2 separate regions of the Homo sapiens genome follow, and region 2 is linked to region 1. The links come from fine-mapping of genetic effects on plasma protein levels. A gene starts in region 1. The other region holds a variant in brackets. All regions are shown on one strand. Distances are between the middles of the regions.

Region 1 (5,376 bases):
GCCCAGGCTGGAGTGCAATGGCGCGATCTCGGCTCACTGCAACCTCCACCTCCCGGGTTCAAGTGATTCTCCTGTCTCAGCCTCCCGAGTGGCTGAGATTACAGGCGCCTGCCACCACGCCCAGTTAATTTTTGCATTTTTAGTAGAGACAGGGTTTTATCATATTGGTCAGGCTGGTGTCTCTAACTCCTGACCTCAGGTGATCCGCCCGCCTCAGACTCCCAAAGTGCTGTGATTACAGGCGTGAGCCACCACACCTGGCCAGAAAAAAATAAAAATAAAAATGTATGCCTGTAATCCCAGCACTTTGGGAGACCAAGGCTGGAGGATCAGTTGAACCCAGGAGATCAAGACCAGCCTGGACGGCATATTGAGACCCTCATCTCTACAAAAAATAAGAAAAATTAGACTGGGCCACGGTGGCTGATGCTTGTAATCCCAGCACTTTGGGAGGCCAAGGCGGGTAGATCACGTGAAGTCAGGAGTTCGAGACCAGCCTGACCAACATGGGGAAACCCCGTCTCTACTAAAAATACAAAATTAGCCGGGGGTGGTGGTGCATGCCTGTAATCCCAGCTACTTGGGAGGCTGAGGCAGGAGAATGACTTGAACCTGGGATGCGGAGGTTGCAGTGAGCTGAGATAGCGTCATTGCACTCCAGCCTGGGTGACAAGCACAAAACTCCATCTCAAAAAAGGAGAAAAATTAGCCAGGTGAAGTCGTGCCCACCTGTAATTTCAGCTACTCGGGAAGCCGAGGACGAAGGATTACTTGAGCCAGGGAGGTCAAAGCTGCAGTGAGCCATGATCACGCTGCTGCACCCCGGCCTGGGCAACAGAGTGAAACCCTGTCTCAAAAAAAAATTATTAAAAAACATTTAAAGAGACAGGGTCTTGCTATGTTGCTCACGCTGGTCTCAAACTCCTGGCCTCAAATGATCCTCCTACCTCAGCCTCCTGGGTAGCTGGGACTACAGAGCGAGCCACCATACCCAGCTACTTTGTGCCTTTTGTAACCCCAGTTTTCAAGATCAGATAAACACAAAGTGAACTAAGACACCTTCTAGACAGAGTGCGGGCATGTGAACGCATGCTTGTGTCTATTTTTCTGAGTGTCACAATGCAAATAGTATGCAAATGAGTTTGTGATGTGTGTCCGTGTGCAGACCTGTGTGTGTACATGTGTGAGAGAGAGTATCTGGGTAGATAAGCAGATGGATGGATGAGAATGAGAAACCTGGAGTTTCCAGGTGCAGAGGAAACTGTTCCTCCAGGGTTCTTTTTTGAGACAGAGTTTCCCTCTTGTCACCCATTCTGGAGTGCAATGGTGTGATCTCCGCTCACTGCAGCCTCCGCCTCCCAGGTTTAAGCGATTCTCCTGCCTCAGCCTCCTGAGTAGCTAGGATTACAGGCGCTCGCCACCACGCCCAGCTAATTTTTGTATTTTTAGTAGAGACGGGGTTTCACCATGTTAGCCAGGCTGGTTTCAAACTCCTGACCTCAGATGATCCACCCACCTCAGCCTCCCAGAGTGCTGGGATTACAGGCGTGAGCCACCGCACCCAGCCTCCTCCAGGGTTGTATAAAAGCAGGGGATTTGGGGAGGGAGGGAAGGATGTGGGTCTGTCCTCAGTCCCAGATGTGGGTGTGGCGTTCCAGTGGTTAGTTCCCGTTGCCTCACATCTGTGCTTTTCCTCCACGGGGACTTGTAGAAGTAGAAGAACTTCTTGGGGGTGGAGCTGAGGGGTGGAGCTGAGGCTGGAGGGAGGAAGGTGTGGGGGGACCCAGGGGTCCTGTCTCCAAGCCTGGTTGCTCTTACGCGAAAAGTTGGGACACTGAGGTGTCACAGCTTCTCTTTTGAAATGGAGAGGAGGTAGGAGGGTGAGGTCCATCCAGGTAGACACAGACACACACAGAGACCACAGCTTCCTGTAACATTTCCGAGTGTCGAATTCCATCTCCCGGTCTAGAGGTTTTTCTTCTTGGTCCTTCCTGAGACCTCTTGGCTCCCAAGAGCCTCTTGATCGGGGCAGGAATGAGGGTGCCCCAGGGTGCGAGAGTCGTGGATCCCTGAAAAGAGGAGGCTGCTCCCCCTCTTTCTTCCCCCCACCTCCAGATTTCCTCATCTGCCCACACCTTCCGGTGGGCGGGGACGTGTATGGACAAATTTGCGGGCTGGGGACCATGGAAGTGGAGGAAATCTACAAGCACCAGGAAGTCAAGATGCAAGCACCAGCCTTCAGGGACAAGAAACAGGGGGTCTCAGCCAAGAATCAAGGTTAGGGAACTCGAGGTGGAAGGGAGGGGTTAAGAAGGAGAGATTGGGGGGCCGGGGGCTTTTGCTCATGTCTGTAATCCTAGCACTTTGGGAGGCTGAGGCGGGAGGATTGCGTGAGCCCTGGAGGTGGAGACTGGCCTGGGCAACATAGGGAGACTCTGTCTGTAAAAAATAAAAATAAAAAAAGAAGGAGAGTTCAGATGGGAGAGGTAAGGGGTCAAAGGTGGGGGCCGGGGGCTCCTTCCCCTCCAAGATGTGTGGATGTGTGTGTGGATGTGTGTGTGGTGTGATCACTCAAACTCTCACACACCCGCTCCACTTAACCAAAAAGCAGATTTTAGCTTCTCACTCCTTATCTTTCACCCCCTACAATTTATTGAGTGCAAAGGGTTGGGTAAAACAAGATCCCGGATCCACTCTCCACACCACAGAGCTCTGAGCAGATCTCCAACCCCTCCCAGGTGCCCATGACCCAGACTATGAGAATATCACCTTGGCCTTCAAAAATCAGGACCATGCAAAGGGTGGTCATTCACGACCCACGAGCCAAGGTGAGCAGACACCCACCTGCTCACATCCCATCACCTTGGGAAGGGGCAGGTGGGCGGGCAACTGCAGGGCCCCCGGGGCTGCGTGGAAGGGAGGAAGCGATGGGGAAGGAAGAGGTGACAGCTGTTGACGTGCTAATGAGGTCTGTTGATGATGACAATGTTGGGGAATGCTGGAGAGGGGGTCTGTGATGGTGACGGTGTTAGATCGCTGAGGGTGGCTGGTGGTGGCAGTGTTGTTGACGATGATGACAAGCTGCATGACCACAGCTGCTGATGGTTTTGAGAGGAGCGAGGTGTCCATGGTGTTAGAGACAGTGAGGATGGTTTGAGTGGTGGTGCTGGCCCCTCAAGGTCACTTTGCTGCCTCTTTGCTCCAGTCCCAGCCCAGTGCAGGCCGCCCTCAGACTCCACCCAGGTCCCCTGCTGGTTGTACAGAGCCATCCTGAGCCTGTACATCCTCCTGGCCCTGGCCTTTGTCCTCTGCATCATCCTGTCAGCCTTCATCATGGTGAAGAGTGAGTACTTCTTGGGAGGAGGGTGCTGGGGGGCCTAGACTTTCTCCCTTGTCCTTCTCTCTCTCTCTCCCTGGGTGCTTCAAGGATTTTCCTGCCCCTCCTGAACAGATGCTGAGATGTCCAAGGAGCTGCTGGGCTTTAAAAGGGAGCTTTGGAATGGTGAGCGGAGGGTCTGAGGGAGACCCGTGGGGTCATGGTGGGGGTCTGGAGAGGGATGGATGCACAGACACCCCTGTTTCATGCCCTCAGTCTCAAACTCCGTACAAGCATGCGAAGAGAGACAGAAGAGAGGCTGGGATTCCGTTCAGCAGAGCATCACCATGGTCAGGAGCAAGATTGATAGATTAGAGACGACATTAGCAGGTGCCTGTGTAGTCTCGCCTTCTATGGGGGTTATTTGTCACCAATGCCCGGAGCTGAGCTGGGGGCAGGGGATTCAGGGGAGGAGAAAGCCGGGGTCCTACCCTCCCAAAGCTCAAGTTGTGGAGGGGCGATGGGTGTTACCATCTGGGTTGCTCTGTGGGTATTGAAAGGCTCCTGGGAACCCCAAATCCATGGGCTCTGCTGTACCCCAGGGTGGGTGTGGGGCAGGGGGGGTGCTTCCAAGGAAGGTGGGGGCTTTGTTTGAGGCTCCACCGCAGCTTGACTTATCTGTTCCCACCCAACCCTCCCCGCCCCCTAGGCATAAAAAACATTGACACAAAGGTACAGAAAATCTTGGAGGTGCTGCAGAAAATGCCACGTAAGTTGGCGCCCCGACAGGAGGTGGAGGAGGGTGGGTGGGGCTTCAGATTTAGCCCCAGCTCCTCTCCCAGGGGCGGGATCTGCCTCACTGTGGGTCTCTCCCCATCCCCAGAGTCCTCACCTCAATAAATGAGAGGACATTGTGGCAGCCAAAGCCACAACTTGGAAGATGGGGCTGCACCTGCCAACGAAGACGGGAAATGACCCCCCCCCCCCAGCCTAGTGTGAACCTGCCCCTCGTCCCACGTATAGAAAAACCTCGAGTCATGGTGAATGAGTGTCTCGGAGTTGCTCGTGTGTGTGTACACCTGCGTGCGTGTGTGTGCGTGTGTGCGCGTGTGTTCGTGTATGTGCGTGTGTGCGTGCGCGTGTGTGTGCATTTTGCAAAGGGTGGACATTTCAGTGTATCTCCCAGAAAGGTGATGAATGAATAGGACTGAGAGTCACAGTGAATGTGGCATGCATGCCTGTGTCATGTGACATATGTGAGTCTCGGCATGTCACGGTGGGTGGCTGTGTCTGAGCACCTCCAGCAGATGTCACTCTGAGTGTGGGTGTTGGTGACATGCATTGCACGGGCCTGTCTCCCTGTTTGTGTAAACATACTAGAGTATACTGCGGCGTGTTTTCTGTCTACCCATGTCATGGTGGGGGAGATTTATCTCCGTACATGTGGGTGTCGCCATGTGTGCCCTGTCACTATCTGTGGCTGGGTGAACGGCTGTGTCATTATGAGTGTGCCGAGTTATGCCACCCTGTGTGCTCAGGGCACATGCACACAGACATTTATCTCTGCACTCACATTTTGTGACTTATGAAGATAAATAAAGTCAAGGGAAAACAGCGTCGCTATGGGACCTGTTACTGGGGCAAGGGGAGGGGTTTTGGGACCTGGGGAGAGGGAGAGTCTGCACGTGACAATGACCCCGGGGCACCAGGGTGGGCGAGACTGAGTGCCCTGCGTGAGTACCTGTGCATCTGTGAATGAGTAACTCATTCCCTGTGTCTTCCCTGTGTCCCAGAGTGGGTGCCCCTGAGCATACAACATCTCCCTGAGTGTACCTGGGACCACGGATATATACAAGCCCTAAGCGTGTACCCACGTGTGTAATTGTGCCCGTGAGTGTATCTATGCCATTGAGCATGTATCCATGAGTGTACATGACCCTAAGGTACTATGTCCACCGCTCATGCATGCACTTGATTTGTTGTTGTTGTTGTTTGTTTTTGTTTTTTTGAGACAGGGTCTCGCTCTATCACCCAGGCTGGAGGGCAGTGGTACGATCATG
Region 2 (5,376 bases), 24 kb before region 1:
AGCAGGGACGCGTTTTAACTTACGGGAGGTGCAGGGAGTGGGAGGGAGGTGGTTTTAATGTTTAAAACTTAAGCTCAAGGTCGGGCACAGTGGCTCACGCCTGCAATCCCAGCACTTTGGGAGGGCGAGGTGGGAGGATTGCTTGAGGCCAGGAGTTTGAGGCCAGCCTGGGCAACATAGCAAATTCCTAAATATATGTATTTTTGAGACAAGGTCTCACTCTGTTGCCCAGGCTGGAGTGCAGTGGTGCGATCTCGATTCACTGTAACCTCTGCCTCCTGGGTTCAAGCGATTCTCCTGCCTCAGCCTCCCAAAAAGCTGGGATCACAGACGTGCGACACCATGCCCAGCGAATTTTTGTACTTTTAGTAGAGATGGGGTTTTGCCATGTTGGCCAGGCTGGTCTCTAACTCCTGGGCTGAAGACCTCCCACCTCAGCCTCCCAAAATGCAGGAATTAGAGGTGTGAGCCACTGTGCCCAGCCAATCTCTACAATACTCTTTTTATTTTATTTTATATTATATTATATTTATTTATTTATTTATTTTTTGGAGATGGAGTCTCGCTCCGTCGCCCAGGCTGGAGTGCAGTGGCATGATCTCAGCTCACTGCAACCTCCGCCTCCCCGGTTCAACCGATTCTTCTGTCTCAGCCTCCCGAGTAGCTGGGACTACAGGTGCGTGCCACCACGCCCAGCTAATTTTTGTATTTTTAGTAGAGACGGGGTTTCACCATGTTGGCCGGGATGGTCTCGAACTCCTGACGCCGTGATCCACCTGCCTTGGCCTCCCAAAGTGCTGGGATTACAGGAGTGAGCCACCGCGCCCGGCCAATACTCGTTTTAATAAAAATTTTAAAATGTATTCACGCCTAACTGGGTAGTTACTTGATACAATAAATGATCTTTTCTAGATTAAGAAAAAAGAAAAAAAAACATTTAAACTCAATTTCCTGGGAAGCCGCAGTTTTGCGCCGGGAGTGGCTTGTGTAGGCACGCGCTGCGAACGCCAGGGGGCGCTGCGGCGCAATTTCCCGGTTTCTTTGATCTTCCGCGTCTGTAACTGGAGATGAGGTGACCCGAATTAGACACGACGGGGAAGTAGGTCAGGGGTTATTCCGTGGTTCTCAGCGGAGACAAAAGTCTGTTGCTTAAACCGCCTCTGCCTCTGCTCCTTACTTATACCCAGGTGATGCAATGTCTTCACACTAAAGGCAAATATTGAGTCTACAAATATTTATGTGTCCCTGTGGGCGGCGGCAGCTGACAATATCGGGTCCTAACGAGCACGAAGTCAAGCTCCCTCTGCACGCTTTATGCAGATCCTCAAAACCCTCCTGTGAGGATCGCTGGAGCCTAGGAGTTCGAGGCTGCAGTGAGCTATGATTGTGCCTCTGCCCTCCAGCCTGGGTGAGAAAGCGAGAAGTTGTGTTAAAAACAAAAAAAAAGTTGGGGGGCCGGGCGCGGTGGCTCACGTCTGTAATCCCAGCACTTTGGGAGGCCGAGGCGGGCGGATCACGAGGTCAGGAGTTCAAGACCAGTCTAGCCAACATGGTGAAACCCTGTCTCTACTAAAAATACAAAAATTAGCCGGGCGTGGTGGTGGGCGCCTGTAATCCCAGCTACTCGGGAGGCTGAGGCAGGAGAATCGCTTGAAACCGGAAGGCAGAGGTTGCAGTGAGCCATCATGCCACTGCACTCCAGCCTGGGCAACAAGAGCGAAACCCTGTCTCAAAAAAAAAAAAAAAATTATCCTTTGAGATCCCTTCCCCCAAGTCCATTTCCCATCTCATGGTGAACCTGGCTGCTGTTCTTCAAACACACCACACTGTCCCTGCCCCAGAACCTTTGCACCTGCTATTCCCATCATCCGCAATGCTGTGCCTTGCAAGCTATTGTACTCCTTCCTCCTTCCCTTCCCCAGCTGGGAGAGGCCCCTGCTTTACTTCCTTGTGGTATCCCCACTTAGGGTGCTTTCTTTCTGGTTCTCTTCTGGTACCGAGGAATGATCCTCATTCTGGATTTGGCAGGTTGCTTCCTCTCTCCCCATCCCTGCCCCAATGTTTACCCTATAAATGGCTTAGAACCACATGCTCTATTGGAATAAGGGTCAGTTGCAGCCAGAATAATATCATGCTGGTAGGGCCGGGTACTTCCTGGTACATCACATCAGGGGGTCCATAACGTCATGTCACTACGATTGATGGGTGGGTTTGGGGAATGTCCCTGGTCCCCAGTAACTCTCCACATAAAGATGTTAACAGGAGCTGGGCCCAGTGGCTCACGCCTGTAGTTCCCAGCACTTTGGGAGGCCAAGGCAGGAGGATCACTTAGGCCCAGGAGTTTGAGACCAGCCTGGGCAACATAGCAAAACCCTGTCTCTACTAAAAATAAAATAAAGACCGGGCACGGTGGCTCATACCTGTAATCCCAGCACTTTGGGAGGCTGAGATGGGCGGATCACTTGAGGTCAGGAGTTCAAGACCAGCCTGGCCAACATGATGAAACCCCGTCTCTACCAAAAAACCAAAAATTAACCAGGCGTGGTGGTGCACACCTGTTATCCCAGCTACTCAGGAAGCTGAGGTAGGAGAATAACTTGAATCCAGGAGGCGGAGGTTGCAGTGAGCTGAGATCATGCCATTGCACTCCAGCCTGGGTGACAGAGTAAGACTCTGTCTCAAAAAATAAATAAATAAAATACAACAAAATAAAATAATTAGCCAGATGTGGCAGCAATTGCTTGTAGTCCCAGCTACATGGGAGGCTGAGGTGGGAAGATCACTTGAGTCCAAGAGGTTGAGGCTGCACTGAGTTATGATCTCGGCACTGCACTCCAGTTTGGGCGATAGAGTGAGACCCTGTCTCATAAAAAATAAAAATAAAAAAGGAAAGAAAAGAAAAAAAGTCATTAGCAGCCATCAATTTTGTTGTTGTTATTGTTTGTTTGTTTGTTTTTGAGATAGAGTTTCGCTCTTGTTGCCCAGGCTGGAGTGCAGTGATGCAATCTTGGCTCACTGCAATCTCCACCTCCAGGGTTCAATCAATTCTCCTGCCTCAGCCTCCCAAGAAGCTGGGACTACAAGCATGAGCCACCATGCCAGGCTAATTTTTGTATTTTTAGTAGAGACGGGGTCTCACCATGGTGGCCAAGCTGGTCTTGAACTCCTGACCTCAAATGATTCACCTGCCTCATCCTCCTAAAGTGCTGGGATTACAGGCATCAGCCACCGTGCCTGGCCCGCCATCCATTTTTGATTCATTACTCTCTTGAGGATTATGTCCAACTTTATCATTCCT[G/A]CTACTGGAATTAGCTGTGGTTCTTCTGAAAAAGGCTTTCTGCTTCCCTCCGGAACTAGCTGGTTTGTACAGAAAGTGACAACGTGATACATTGACTTATGTATTATTTGTGGAATGCCTTGAGGCAAGCGGTTACATGAGCTCAGCAGAAGAGCCTGGAATGGGCACAGCCCTGAGGGTCACGTGTGGCTCCCTTGGAAGCATCTAGGGAGCACCCAGGAACGATTGGCTGCCATAGTAATTACTATCTAATTTATTAGATATAGTAAAAATAAATTTATTACTAATTATCACTAACGATTCTGATTACTGGGTGAGAACAATGGTGATCTCATGTATTTATGTGCATTACAGGGTGAGAGTTCTCCTTCCTGTGGCGTGCAGGAGATTCTAGAATAGAAACTCATTGAAAGAGTGAGAGGAAAACATTTGTGATCTTGAACCTGTTCCGCTTAAAAATACATGAGGGAGGCCGAGTGCGGTGGCTCACGCCTGTAATCCCAGCACTTTGGGAGGCCGAGTTGGGTGGATCACCTGAGGTCAGGAATTCGAGACCAGCCTGGCCAACACGGTGAAACCTCGTCACTACTAAAAATACAAAAATTAGCCAGGCATGGTGGCGGGCACCTGTAATCCCAGCTACTCGGGAGGCTGAGGCAGGAGAATCACTTGAACCCAGGGAGTGGAGGTTGCAGTGGGCCGAGATCATGCCACTGCACTCCAGCCTGGGTGGTACAGCAAGACTCTGTCTCAAAATAAGTAAATAGATAAATCGATTAATAAAAAATACATGAGAGGACGGGTGCAGTGGCTCATGCTGGTAATCCCAGCACTCTGGGAGGCCGAGGTGAAAGGATCATCTAAAGCTGGGAGTTTGAGACCAGCCTGGGCAATATAGCAAGACCCCTGCCTCTACAAAAAATGTAGCTGCACCTGGTGGCACACACCCAGCTACTTGGGAGGCTGAGGCAGGAAGATCACTTGAGTCTGGGAGGTGGAGGCTACAGTGAGCTGTGATTGCACCACTGCACTCCAGCCTGGGTGACAGAGCAAGACCTCATCTCCAAAAAAAACACAAATAACAAAAACGTGAGGGTCCAGAGAAATTAAAGCTGCGGGCTGGGCCAGCAGCAGTGGTGGTGGGATGGTGAAGCCAGCGACCCTAGCAGAGAAATCGGGGACAAAGGAATCAGTGCTGGAGACCTGCAGAGGAGGCGTCCTGGACCCAGACAGGAAAAGGAGGTGATGTAACTCAACGAAGCAAGGAAATCTCGTGGAAATGAGTAAGGTGACAAAGAGAGGCCACCCAGGGGGAGACCCAGACATTGAGGGTAGCTTCCCTTTTATTTTCTGTAAAGTTGCTCAAAAACCTTAAAACACAGTTGACCAACAGCTGCTGCCAAGAACATTGTGAAAAGGTTTCTGGGTAAGGAAATGGCCCTGCGAATGGGAAGGTTCCGCTCTGGTGGGATCAGAGATGAGGTGTCCAGGGCTGGGATAGGCAGGCCAGGATAGCAAAGCCCTGGCAGACAGAGGCTCCATTTTGGGTGTCCTTCATTCCCTTCTTTTTTTTTTGAGGCGGAGTCTCGCCCTGTTACCTAGGCTGGAGTGCAGTGGCGCGATCTCGGCTCGCTGCAGCCTCTGCCTCCCGGGTTCAAGTGATTCTCCTGCCTCAGCCTCCCAAGCAGCTGGCATTACAGGCATGTGCCACCACGCCCGGCTAATTTTTGTATTTTTAGCAGAGACAGGCTTTTTCCATGTTGCCTAGGCAAATCTCGAACTCCTAATCAAGCAGTCCACCCGCCCTCAGCCTCCTTCATTCACTTCTGAGATGATTCAGTTTCTGTCTCTGTTGGCAGCTGGGAAAGTTCTGAAAAAAGAATGAAGAGCAGTCCAGGCGTGGTGGCTCGCAACTGTAATCCCAGCACTTTGGGAGGCTGAGGTGGGCAGATCACCTGAGCTTGGGAGTTGGAGACCAGCCTGACCAAAAAGGTGAAACCTCACCTCTACTAAAAATACAAAAATTAGCTGGAAATGGTGGTGGATGTCTGTAATCCCAGCTACTCAGGAGGCTGAGG

Direction of the effects. Positions count from the first base shown, and alleles are read on the strand shown. Strength reflects both the effect of a copy and how common the allele is.
As copies of G replace A in region 2, the plasma level of the protein whose gene starts at base 2,192 in region 1 goes up (weak association).

The links. PIP is the chance, under the fine-mapping model, that this variant and not a neighbour inherited with it causes the effect. The UK Biobank Pharma Proteomics Project read protein levels with antibody pairs (Olink). The fine-mapping took linkage between variants from a reference panel, not from the people measured, so its PIPs are less certain.
Region 2: its variant is fine-mapped to the plasma level of the MCEMP1 protein (UK Biobank, PIP above 0.99).

What each region holds. Positions count from the first base shown.
Region 1 is chr19:7,674,899-7,680,274 of GRCh38, forward strand. It overlaps MCEMP1 (mast cell expressed membrane protein 1), which reads left to right and starts at 2,192. Exons shown (of 7, transcript NM_174918.3): 1 at 2,192-2,277; 2 at 2,739-2,828; 3 at 3,206-3,343; 4 at 3,452-3,502; 5 at 3,593-3,706; 6 at 4,026-4,085; 7 at 4,200-4,931. The coding sequence starts at 2,223. The coding sequence ends at 4,216. RefSeq lists an enhancer at 3,159-3,228.
Region 2 is chr19:7,651,185-7,656,560 of GRCh38, forward strand. No RefSeq gene overlaps it. Among named protein-coding and RNA genes, the nearest start is that of RETN, 15 kb to the right of the region's middle. The variant G/A (reference allele first, on the strand shown) is at 3,299.